Regions from separate parts of the Homo sapiens genome. Here all the other regions are reported to be linked to region 1. The links are microRNA targets in miRTarBase. Many come from high-throughput screens and were not tested one by one. Region 1 holds a microRNA gene; each other region holds the end of a gene's coding sequence.
Evidence for each region. The annotated mature microRNA hsa-miR-2052 reads UGUUUUGAUAACAGUAAUGU and lies in region 1 at 2,533-2,552, opposite strand. An mRNA with a match to its seed (bases 2 to 7 or 8) in the 3' UTR can be bound and repressed. Matches are read on the target gene's strand: a 7mer-m8 pairs with bases 2 to 8, a 7mer-A1 pairs with bases 2 to 7 and ends in A, and an 8mer does both.

Region 1 (4,248 bases):
TTTTCCCATTCAGATGATGACTCCTTTGGCAGAGGATATTAAGATCCTGTGAGTGGGTTCAATTATATGCCAACTCAAGATGCCAGATCACGGGGTCTCTTCATAAAATTTATGAGGAAACATATTCCCTGGAGCAAAATGGCTCACAGATAGAGAAAGCCGAAGACTCTCTATTGAAGAACTTCCTCTAGGTCTTCCTCTTTACTTTTTTTAACTTTTAATGGGGGAGTTCCATTTCCATTTGGAACTTAGACAAAGTTCTTTCATCTTGTCTTCTTCCAAGGAGAGTTCTTTTCACTGTTTGCATCATAAAGACATCCATCCTCAAGGATATTATAAGCACCTCCTGGGTGCCTTTGTAAAGACTACGTGGATCCCTTAATTAGTTAATCCATCATCATCTCCGGTTGATTTATTTAATATTATCTCAAACATCAGAGAATTGCTTGTTTCTCACAAAAATTGTCCATTCTTTCTCTGGTATCTTCTAACTTCTGTAAGCAACAATGTCCACTCAACAGTTTAACTGAAATTACAGACAAGCCTTAATAAGCAGACAATGTCTCATACATAAAAACACTCCAGGAGCATCTGGACTGGAATTTTGCCCAGTTAAGTGACAGTTTATGAAAATAGCCCAATAGCCCCAGTTGCAGTTAAAAAAAAAGTCCAAAGACTACAAAGAGTTGCATACTATCAGGGCACAAATCCATAAAACTGGTTGCAACATTGTGGCTAGAAAAAGAATATTTTGAGTGACTAAACAAGAAAATGAATTCTGGTTGCTTAACCTGTCTGACTTTGTAGCTTTCTTGATACCTTTCAGACTCTACCATATCGATACTATCCTAATTGCTTGTATGTATTTTATTTTTATTTCACAGACTTTGTATTTATAACAGTGGCTATCACTCTGTCAGCATGGGTGTATTCTGAAGAAGACTTTCAGCCTCTCCTGGGCAGATGTGGCCATTAGACTCAATCGGTTTTAAAATTATTTCCAACCTCAAACACTCAATGTAACAATATAGCACCCAGCAGTGCCTCACATATTTAGATCAGATGGTAAGAGCTTTCAGGTGACGACAGATATCTACATGGGAGGGAATTTTAACTCACAAATTCTCTGATTCAAACACTGACTGTGCATCACAGGCTTAGAATGTAGTTATTTTATAAATATTGAATTTTCACTAGTCACATTGACAAACACCATAATTAGAAAATGCAATAGTGGGATGTGATGAAATTCTGTGGTACTCTTTTTATTTCTTAACCAATACATTTTAGAAAAGTGCATTTGACCTAAAATGGGCACGCCTCACCCGTGTGCATCCACTTCACGCACTTGCAAATCCTCCCCAACGACTTCATTTCTGCCTAGAAGCAGAATATGCCCTTCCCCGCCAAGAAGCTTGTGAAAAAAAATTTTCTGAGAGCTGTCCAGTCCATATACTAAGAATTCATTTTCCAGTTTTTACATGTATAAATAGATTAGTAATTGTTTTCAGGTTTTCTTATTTTTACAATTGGTTAAGCATGGATTTTGCTGTCTGCACATCTTTAAGAAGTCATCTTTTATACTACACAAACACTATGGTTTTCTTTACCTGCTCTCGTTGCCAGCAAATGAAACAATGATACAAGAGAACTGGAGACCAAGGAGGCCCCTCGTGCTCTGGTTCGTGCAAGAACCAACATTGCACATAATCTTGGGAGTTGGACTAACACTGGCAGCTCCTGAATTTCGCTATAGAAAGGACTTAGGAGTGAGAAGGTTTTTGGAAGTGAACGCTAATTAATTTGCCTGGAAGCTACATTACAGAGCAAGCACACTTGATTTTACTTAGATTACTTAGATTGTAAATTTATGAGGGATGACTTAGAGGGGGTTGCTCATGGAGATTTATGAAGGGACAAAACTCCCTCTTCCCCAAGTGCTATACCTTGGCAATGCCACTGCTAATGTTCTCAGAAGTACAACTACTCAAGTCTGTGTTTATTTAATAAATGAAAGTCAGGTCATGTCCATTGCCCACCCACACTGTTCTGCAATTTCATATTTCCTTGTGAAATGACTTGGAGGTTCAAGCTGGATCCTGCCCTGGCTCTGACGCCAGACAATAATACTTCCTGCTCAAACCTCATACCAACTGCAGAGCAGAACTGCTTTGCTGAACAGTTAACACATGTGATGGAGTGATTCTGTATTTTACTTTAATAGATACTTAATTTCTATTACCCTGTCTCCTTGATGTGTCGTCTTTTAGAATTTTATTTCCTTCTAACACAATTTTTCTAATGATATCTTAGTTGTAGGGATATAAACAGCATATGATATTTTTTTTCCCGAACATTTCAGAAGTTTAGTTTTTTTCTGATTTCTGCTTGCTATCCATGGGCCTAGTTTTATCGTAAATATATTTTTATTTGGAGTCAGTTACACTAGAATCTGCTTCTCTGTAAGGGAAAGGAGTTAGTCTGCTATGGACTGCAACTTGTTTTGATAGCTGGTAACTTTGAACTAAAGGGACATTACTGTTATCAAAACAGCAACCAGCTTTTCTTGGAAGTAGAAACTGACATGGTCTTTTTTTCCCCCTTCTTTCTGCCTAAGGTCGTATCCCTTGACTACAAGCACCATCTCTATGTTTTACTGAAGGCTTTTCCCTTTCAAATCTCACAGGCCAACTATAGAAAGATCAGACTCTTGGTCAGAGTCCTCAAAAGGAAACAGTCTGGGGCATCAAAAGGCCATAAATTCAGCCAGAGTAGTGGTATTTGGAAACGACCTTAAGTATCAATCTTAGAATGAAAATATATGACTTTTACATCCAGTTCAATTTTTGAGGTTATTTACTTTTTAGAGAGGCTGAAGAGAAAGGGTTAGTACATCAACTTTCAACCTGAAACATATGGAAGAACGTTAAATACTTTTAATTTTACTAGAAAAAAAAATGTCTGCAAAGTATTTTAACTGAGTGGGTTTTGGCAAACATAAAAACTCAATTAAATAATTTTTTCCTATGAAACTTTTGGCATGTCCCTAAACTGGGTTTTCTTGTAATATTGTCTGAATTAGAAATCAAAATTGAGACAGACATTAACAGTAGTCAATCAAACTCTGATGCAAAAGTTGCCCCATTTAGTGGAAGATCCTGACATCCTGACATCTTCCACTGGAAAAAAAAAAAAGAAAGAATAAAAGTAAAGGAAGTTCAGCTGAGCTGCTATACCATCATGACCAGTGCAACTTTCAATAATGATGTGGCCCTATGCTTTAGAGCACAGTGATATTATTCACAGTTAACTTCTGGACATGTTTTAACAATACAATTATCCTGCCATGCTTATCCTAACCATTGAAAGAGGATAGTTTGTGAAGATTGCAATGTTAAACTTGATATGTTGCCAATATGTATTTTTCTCCTCTGCCTCCTGAAGTTCTTCCAAAATTTCCTTAAATGAAATGTTTATCAAGTCAAAAAAGATAAACCATTTGGGAGATCTCAGTAGATGAAACATTTCAACCAAGTTTTGGAAGATGAGAAGTGTAGGAGAGAGATTACTGAGGTAGCTGAGTGACAGCACTGTAATTCTAAGTGCAGTTATCCCCACTTTGGGATCCTGAGGAGAATAAAGTTGATTCACCCTGAAGAAATCCCAGAGAGGCCTGTAGGCATCAGATTTAGTAAAAAGAAAAAGGGGAAAGTCTGAGGGCTGAGGATAGGAGGAATGGAAGTCTATATGAAAAAGAAATTGCTGGATCTCCTATGGCCAGATGACTACTACCCTCCTGACACCTCCCAGGAGATCATAGTTTTATTCTCTGTAGTTAGTGCCTGGAAAGACTCCATCTATCTTTGGCACACATGGATGTTAGTGAGGCAAGAAGCATAAAACTATTGCATGTGTCCCTTGGTCACTTCCTCAAGATGCACTGTCCCGAAGGAACAACCAAGCATTGATCACATGCCAATGCTCTCATTGCCAAGAAGTATAGAAAGAAAATATTTGTCTCTTAAGGCCTTCTTTAGTGGGGAAAGGACCTCTGCTTTCCAGTAACTTCCACACATTGCAGATACCCACGAAAAGAAATAAATTTTAGAAAATTAATAGAAAAAAAATCACAGATCTATTCCCATATAGATATATGTTTCCCATTAGCCAGATGTTCCCTTCCTCCTATTCTTACCTTTCCCTCAAAAGAGTTACCACCCTACTCAAATATCCCTTTTACAACCCAAA
Region 2 (4,248 bases), not on the chromosome of region 1:
AAAAAGGAGAGCAAGAAACAGATTCCAGAGATGTTACAGCAAGGCAGTCATTGGACTTGCTGACTTACTGAATGTCAGATACTGAAACGAAAGGAGTTAGAGATGCTGCATTCACCTGCATTCCTTTTTAACCAAAGAAGAAAGAAAGAAATGGTTTTCATTGAAGCTTAAAATGTGTCTAAGACTTATTAAAGCTATTGGATCTAGTTCTAACTGCTTCCTATCACAGGGACTTTACTAGGGTAGAAGCAATGTCACCAGGATCAGTACTTGCATGGATGAGTAGAAGGACAGTCTTTCAGATTCTAATTGCATTCTTGTTCTTCTCAAGTCATGTAACACAGACTACATCCTGGATCCATCCCGTGATGAGTGTCCTGAATCTATCTCGCTCAGAGGAGAATGAAGAGGATTGCTCTAGAGAACTCCCCAACCAGAAAAGTTGATGGTTTTCCTTAGGAAGTGGAGCTACATGGATGATGTGAGCAGAGACGCATAACATCCAATTCTGAGATGAAACAGTCTAAAATAGGAGTAAAGCATGCACTACTTGTTGAAGTGTGAAATGGAGACTCTGGACTTTGGGTATTTTTGTAAAACTTTTGATATTTCTGTATACATTTAAAAAATCAATTGCCACTACAGTAGTTCCTTAAGAATAATCTAGTTATATTTTTTGAAATCACATATAATTAGACTTTATAATATATATACTTTTTCATATATAATTAGATCTTTCTTTGTAATTTCATATGTAGTTCTTCATAGGGTCTCAGATACAATGGTTTTTATAATTGACATATTGAAAAAGTATATGAACATAATGAAACACCTCATTTATTTGATAATTCACTAATGTTTTATATTCATATATTAGGAAAGTGAACTTAGCAAGCTTTTTGGAATTTAAGGATCACATTTAGACATCTCATGGGCTGATGAATACAGCTGGTATCTTTGTGGAGCTTTCTAATTTACAAAATGCTTTGTAGACCCCATTGTCTTTAAACCATACAACATGCCCGTGAAGCTGATCTGGTGGGTATGTTTATTCTTGGTTTTCAGTAGGGAAATAGCAGTTCAGAGAGAGGAAGCTCTCTGTCCCAGCACCGAGACTCACTCCTAAGTCTTCTGATTCCATGAGCAGTCCCCCTTCCCCCATACCCTGCTGTCTCCACGGAGGGAGGTCACAGCCCATCACGCAGGACACTGTGATTGTGTTGATGCAGCTGGCTCCACAGCTGTGCATTCCACAGAGATTCAGAAGGCACCTCTTCGGTCAAACATGGCCCCTCTATAACCCCACTATTCTTCTCCTATAAACCCTTCCCCCTTCTCTGCACCCAAGCCTTCGCCAAGTAGGCGCACTCTTTGTGATATTGTTTCAGCAGACTTCTTTCAGCAGCTCGTGTTTTTCTAAAGTGAAAGGCATGGTTTGTCCTGCTTAGGTTGCCCTTCCCAGAGGGATGGTTTGAGGGGAGCTGATGAGAAGAGAGGTATCTGTTAAAACATTACTGCTCTACTCGAAACAAGATGGAAGCCTAAAGCCCAAGTCGAGCAGCTCCCAGCACTGCTGTGCAGACCTAGAGGTCCTTAGAACATAGTCTAAGAACCATTCATTGTAGCCATTTTATAGTTGAGTAAACTGAGATCTTAAGTCTCCTAGTCTACTGAATTTCATATGGTGTATAATACAGATTTATATGGTAAAGATATACATATACATTGTGCTCAACTATACATTCCTGAATCCATTTAGGATTTGTGATTTATGTCTTGAGTAATAATATAAAGTCAACTCCAGACTGATAGGTAGTCATTAGCCATGAGAAATGTTTCAGGATGGCTAGGGAAGACTTGTGTTTTGCCTGACAGCCATTTGAATGTTAGGAAGCTTCGGGGAGACAAGTTTTGAGAGAAGCCCCAGAGGGAGCTATTTCCTTGCACCCCCCAGAGGTGAATGAGGTATTCTATAAGTTAGTGTCTATAATTGTGAAAGTACAAACTTCTTGTTTTTGTCAAATTAATGGTATGAAATTTCTCTCCCCCTGCTTGAAGAGTTTTCTAATTCGTTTCTAGTGAGCAAAACAAAGAAGGTGCTTGAGTCACTGAAATCAAAGTACTCAGGCACACAGCCCACTGACAAGAGACACCTCATCCATTAACTGCTGTTTTGTACCACTTGCCGCCCTGTTTCTGTCAAATACCTAGTGAAAAAGGCCTAAACAATTGTAATGATATTATTTATTGGGCATTTTGTGCCATACATGGTGATGAGCAGTTTGCATATATTTATTTATGATCTTCTTAAAACCATTCCATGAAATAGGAACTGTAATTATCCCCAATTCTAAAAGAAAAAACTTAGTTTTAGAGAGTTAGTAATCTTTGCCTAAGGGTCACAAAGCACCTATGTGTAGAAGCTAGGGTTCAAGGCAGATCTGTGATTCCAGAAGCTGTTCTCTAAACCACTATGGAGAACTGCTTAGATTCATTGTCTATGGGTACATTTTATAAAAAGGCAGATTCTAGTTCAGTGTCATAAGGAACTTTCTAGTAATTAGAGCTGATAAGAAAAGAATTCCCCAGGAGAAAATGGAAACACTATCCCAGCAATCTGAATTCCTTACTTGGGGAATGTTGCTGAGGAGGTTCAGTGTGTGAATGGACTGAACCAGTTGGCCACTCTCTCAGATTCCCTCTTCATAAAGCTTCCGTGACTTCTAAACCATCAGGTCGGTGCCATAAGAGATGCTCAAAAAAGCATGGTCAGGGCTTAGCAAGAATCCTTTTCCAGTGCAAATACGACCCTCATATTATGTTTTGGCGAGTAGCCAGTCTTTCTTTAACATCAATCAACCGTAGCAATGTGGTCATCACGAAGTCTTCATTGACTCACTGGCTTGGATTTTAGGGTTAGAAAATCTGAATGTTCTTATGTCCTTCCGTCTCACTTTACTAGAGTGCCCAAGTTGACTCATCCTTACTCACTCATTCCCTCAAAATATTTATTGAGCACCAACAATGTCACAAGCACTGTGCTAAACACTGTGGTGAAGTAGAACAATTGCTAATCATTTCCTGGGTTCCACTTACTCTTGATTTAAAAAAAAAAAAACAACAAAAGAGTTTGTGTGTGGCCAGGACTAAACAGCTGCTTCTTAATTTTTGAATTTTAAAACTAATCTATTTTATTTAAAAAAAATCAAGTACTTTGGAAGTGAATAAAGTAAGAGATAGCCTGTCTCACTTTCCAGAGGTAGCAGTCACTAATACTGTGGTGAGTGATTTTACTCAAAGGAAATCACACTATTAAGCAGCTTGGTTTTGACATGTTATGTTGTGGTCATCTTTTCATGTCAATACATAGATTAATCTTTTATTTCAAATGTCTACATAAAATATCACTACCCACATAACCTATAATTTGTGTGGCCAGCAATTTATTGAACACTAAAATGTTTTAAGTTTTCTTATTGCTAACAATGTCACAGTGAACATTTATATATTCATTAAATCCTTTTCCTCATGTATCTTTGCACTCTTGTGCTAGTATGTCTATAGTGTGAATACATTCATAAATTTCTTGATCAAAGCTAGGTCAAAGTTACATTCATTTTAATTTTGGTACATATCCATAAATTCTCCATAAAAGTAGGACCAACTTACATTACCACCAATAGTGTATGTGAGCCTTATTTTTATGTATGATAGGACTTTTTTTAGTCCAAATGTTCCTATAGATTTTCTGGGTTTTTTTTTTTTTTTTGTCCTTGGAAGAATAACCTTCCTTCCACCAAGTCCAAGAACCTGAGATTTTTAATCATTAGGTTTTAGATTTCCTTTAGCAGCAGAGACTGACTTGCTGTATAGAGGGAAGTCAAGTAGTGACTAACTCACTATATGTCAAACACATCATTACTCTTCTCTTTTCCTACTTTACATGTAATGGTTGCGAGGACCAACTTTCAAATGAGCTAACTTGGGTGAGACGTTCACTAAAGTACCAAGCACAATACAAATGCATCTTCGAGTTCTTTGGGCCTCACTTTCCCTATCTGAATAATAAGGATAGTAATCCCTTGCCTTTTCTCAAACCAGTTCAACTCAGCAAACACTTCCTGAGCACCTGCTACATGCCAGGCAAAATGTGAAATTTGCATGCTATGAGGCTAAATGGTACTGATTCTCAAAACAAGGAGCTCATAGTCTAAAACCATTTTTCTTTCTTTTTTTTCCCCCTAAACA
Region 3 (4,248 bases), not on the chromosome of region 1:
TTCTCCTGCCTCAGCCACTTGAGTAGCTGGGATTACAAGGCGCGGGCGCCACCATGCCCGGCTAATTTTTGTATTTTCAGTAGAGATGGGGTTTCACCATGTTGGTCAGGCTGGTCTCTAACTCCTGACCTCGTGATCTGCCTGCCTTGGCCTCCCAAAGTGCTGGGATTACAGGCATGAGCCACCGCACCCAGCTGGAAAATCATTTTTAAAGTTCACTAAGAAAGACGTCTGTCCCAAAATTTTTCCTTATTGCTTTCTCTTCCTCATAACTTTATCCAAATAACAGTGCCCTCAAATTAAAGATGGAAGGGGGAAGTATTTGAAACAAAATAATGAATAATAATAAATTCAAACTAATAAAAAATAGAGACAAGAAGGAATTAGAAAACAGGAGTGAGTACATTTGGCTTACTTAGTGCTTATATATCTGCCCTAATTCTCTGCCCTTTCCATGAATAGCTGTTTTTAGAGGGATCACATAAGCCATTCCCATTTTTACACCCACTGTGTAAATGCCACCCTGTATTGATGCAAAGTCAAATTTAATTAAAGGGGATAAATAGCAAGGGAACATGTTATCTTTCAAATAAACCTTCCTGAGATAACATTAACTTTATTTAAAACAAAAAACTTGTTAGATTTGCAGACTTTGTTCTTGGAGGAAGCCACTTGTCACCTGAAGAAATCAGTCTGCATGAAGAGCAGTATGGCCTTGGGGGTGCCTTCTTGGAAGAGCAGCTCTTTAACCCGAGTACTGCCTGACATGCGACCTTCAAGTTGACTTCATTCTGGACAAGGAAGTGGGCAAAGGGCAGGGATTCTATTAAAGTTAGGCAGAACTGTTCTAGTGAACGGTGGCAAAAACATTTGCTGTGGAGAAAAACAAGTCAGTCTGGAAAGGGAAACCAACCCATTTTGAAGATAACTTAGCATTCTTGGTGACTTCTGCTACTTATTGTACTGTAGGTGGATACCAAAATTCTGTGACAGCCACTACCACTTACCTTGAATGAAGGCTTTCATTAGGAACAGGGGAATGGCGTTGTTCTTAAGGGGCTAGTAAGCATGAACAGGTGCTTTGTCGACACCAGGGCACTAAATCTGGTCTTAATCCCCTGAACCTGTGTCAGAAGACTCTGCAATACTCTTCCTATAGTTCGTCAGTATAAGTCCTTAAAGAGACCTGAGACATGCTGGACCAGTGTTTTCCAAAGTACAGCTCACAGGCTACTACCAAGTGTTGGTCAATAAAGGTATTCTGAGGTCAACTAAGATTGATATAAAGTTAAACTAATGTATTTCAGTATCTCTCAGAGGCATTCATAATGCTCGTGTGCACTGTGAATCTCCCAAAGGGGAGAAATTGTGTGCTGCAGTTTCTTGCTTAATTTGACCACAGAACTCTTTTTCATGAGATTAATATTCCTTGGAACACGTTTGGAAAATGCTAATGGTGGTGGAACTGAGCTCATGAGAGGTTAAATAACTTGTGCAAGACCACACTGAGATGCAGCACTGGTAGAAATCCAGCCCTGATGTATCCTTTGACTCAGGTAGACAAGATCTTCAGGTGCAAGCTTAGGAGCCATCTCCCTACAGCCATGGGCCTCACAATGTTGGTGGCTTTACTTTTTATTTTTCAATAATGGCCAACTTGCTATTTAACTGTGATAAAGGGAAATGTTTCTGAAGACATTTTAAAGTTTTTTATACATACGTAAGATTTTTATATACATACGTAAGGATTAGATACTATGATTACTTTTTTTGTATTTTGAAATTGAAGGCACTTAAGCTCTTGTGATATTTTGAATTGACTGATCCATTTAAAAAATTGTTTAGCTATAGGTGTTTGTAACAATTTCTTATAAAATGATTTTTTTTCTTGATTCATGATATTAAACTCCAGATTGAAATGAGGGGCTATGAGCTTTGACCCTGAGGAAAGAAGGCCAAAACATAGATCTGAGGAAAGATTTGAACATGGCAAGACAATCTCAGGGTTAAGATGTTGCTAAGTTGATTCTGAGAATCAAAATCAGGCTTTTTTTCCTGTGATGGGATCATAAAAATAATCTTTTTATCAGGACAAAGGTTATGGGCGAAGGATAGACAGAATTTTGGCACTGCTGCTTTCCTGAGCCAAATTAAGTAGTTTTTCTAAATCATGAAAAAAGAGCATGACTATCCATCTGGAACTTCCTAGATTGATTTTCAAATGATAGTTCCTCTTTGAAGTATTTACAGGTCTGTTTTTGCCAGACATCTTTTCATACTGGGAACTTTTTTTTTTGTAATATCCACTAAAGTTAATCTGCCTTTATATAGACTTGGATTTTTAAAAAACCAAAGGATATATTTTCCATTCAGATTTATGGTAACTATTTTATGAGTAAATAGAAGTTTGAATATTTTTCTTATGGTTTAATCTGTTTTTTTAAATTATATTTATTGGTGATATAAATGTATCAGATGTATCAGTGCCTGTGCTCACCAAGTTCGTCTCCTAAGAAGCAGTTTGTGTGCTACAACGTATGCGTATGAGTAAATAACACATGAACAATCTGCTGGGGCTGCCAGGTACATCCCAGCCAGGACAGCCGCTGGGCCAGGGGGAAGAGGTACTGCTGAGGGAAGGAAGCAGCTCTTCATGGGCAGCTAGCCAGGTGTAACCATCACAGTAAAAACAGCCAAAGAGAGAAGAACAACAGCAGTCCTTGAGGATATTGTTTTCCATGTTTATTTTTAGAGGAAATCATAGGTTTGTCAGTTTCTGCTTTGTGACTACTGTGAGAAGCTAAACAATTAGAAGCATTACTTGTGATATTTTTAGTGTATTTATGTTGTTTTCATTTGATTTGGGGGTGTATTATAGTACTGATCACAATTCTAATCCCCATCAAGCAATGTACAGATAACTCTTCCAAGAAATGTTTCCCTCCTTTCTTTCCTCCCTTCCCTTCTCTTTCTCCCTCACCTCCTGTCTCCTCTCCTCCTCCCTTTTTAAAGGCCTTTGAACAGTTTAAACGACCACTCAATAAAATGGCTCTGCCCTTCACAGGTGGTTGGAAGTTGGCTTTGTGCCTCACACACCATAGGTGTATAATTATGGAGCCTAACAGATCCCTTTGTTATTTTACTGCTTATGCTTGGTGCCTACAAAAGCTTACTGTTGTTAGCAAGTTGAACTCTTTGACACCAGATGTGTGGGTGAGATATAGTGTAGGTGGCTATGCTTAAACAATCGTATCATTCAAGTGTTATTTTTAAAAGGTTTTAAAACACATTTTACATATCACAAAAAATGCTTTGTGAATTAGTTGTATGGTTTGCCAGTAATACCTAGGGCTGAATTACAGGGGAATGTCCATCTGACATGAAGGACAATATTTCAATTTATGACTTTTTAAAAAAATCTGGAAATTTCATATATTTAGATTTTAAGAGGGTTTGGAATAGATGATGGATTACATAAAAATATCTAAATATGTGGAGGAATTAAGATCCTGAAATGATGTCAACTAAAGAAATGCTCTCTTACATTATGCTATGTGTGATTGTTTCCCAGAGTGAGAGATGTACAATTTTATAAATTAGCTTTTCTTGTCCAACTGAAAGCAAGATAGACAACATAATGGATGTGGAAGTTTGAAGACACCTGCAGGAAGACAGAGAGGTACTTTTAGGTGACAACAGGAGCAAGCTGCCTTCTGAGAGAGCCTGCTGGGTGGCATGACATTGAAGAGTGAACTATTTGGGTGTGACTGTTAGCCTTATTGACTTAGAACCCTGCTTTTTGTTATTGCACCATAAGACCTGTCTCTTGTTAGTCAATTCATATAGTTGGTACAGGTAGTGATTCACAACCAAAAATATAACTAGCATAAGGATAAAAACACTTGACTTGATATGACCAGCAGATTCTCTCTCAGAAGACAGATTTACAAGGGGTCAAATTATAATAAGGTGGCTACTTGGTGAACTGAAACAAAACAAAGGGAGCTTGTTATATAATTCACATGGTTAATGTCATGAGGCCAAAGAGTTTGATGCAGATGCCACCCCCCACCCCAGTGGGGCTAGCCTTGTTAATGGGATGAGATACCAGGTCTGTTGACAAAGACCACGCCTTCCTTTATGCAGGTCCTGCCAACTTTTTCCTCTCTGTGACTGCTGTTTTTCTAATCTTCATTATTGACAAACATCCCACCCCCTCTGATGGGCATATTTTTACTCAGATGTGTT

Region 2: the mRNA of STXBP4 is a reported target of hsa-miR-2052. Seed matches in the 3' UTR shown: 7mer-A1 at 2,084-2,090 and 8mer at 4,190-4,197.
Region 3: the mRNA of NEMP2 is a reported target of hsa-miR-2052. Seed matches in the 3' UTR shown: 7mer-A1 at 1,957-1,963 and 7mer-A1 at 3,992-3,998.

The regions. Positions count from the first base shown.
Region 1 is chr8:74,703,998-74,708,245 of GRCh38, reverse strand. MIR2052 (microRNA 2052) reads right to left here and starts at 2,553; the gene lies at 2,499-2,553. The region is part of intron 4 of MIR2052HG (MIR2052 host gene); the gene reads right to left.
Region 2 is chr17:55,159,466-55,163,713 of GRCh38, forward strand. STXBP4 (syntaxin binding protein 4) reads left to right here. Exons shown (of 18, transcript NM_178509.6): 18 at 332-4,248. The coding sequence ends at 446. Among named protein-coding and RNA genes, the nearest start is that of HLF, 100 kb to the right of the region's middle.
Region 3 is chr2:190,505,706-190,509,953 of GRCh38, reverse strand. NEMP2 (nuclear envelope integral membrane protein 2) reads left to right here. Exons shown (of 9, transcript NM_001142645.2): 9 at 642-4,248. The coding sequence ends at 765. Among named protein-coding and RNA genes, the nearest start is that of NEMP2, 27 kb to the left of the region's middle.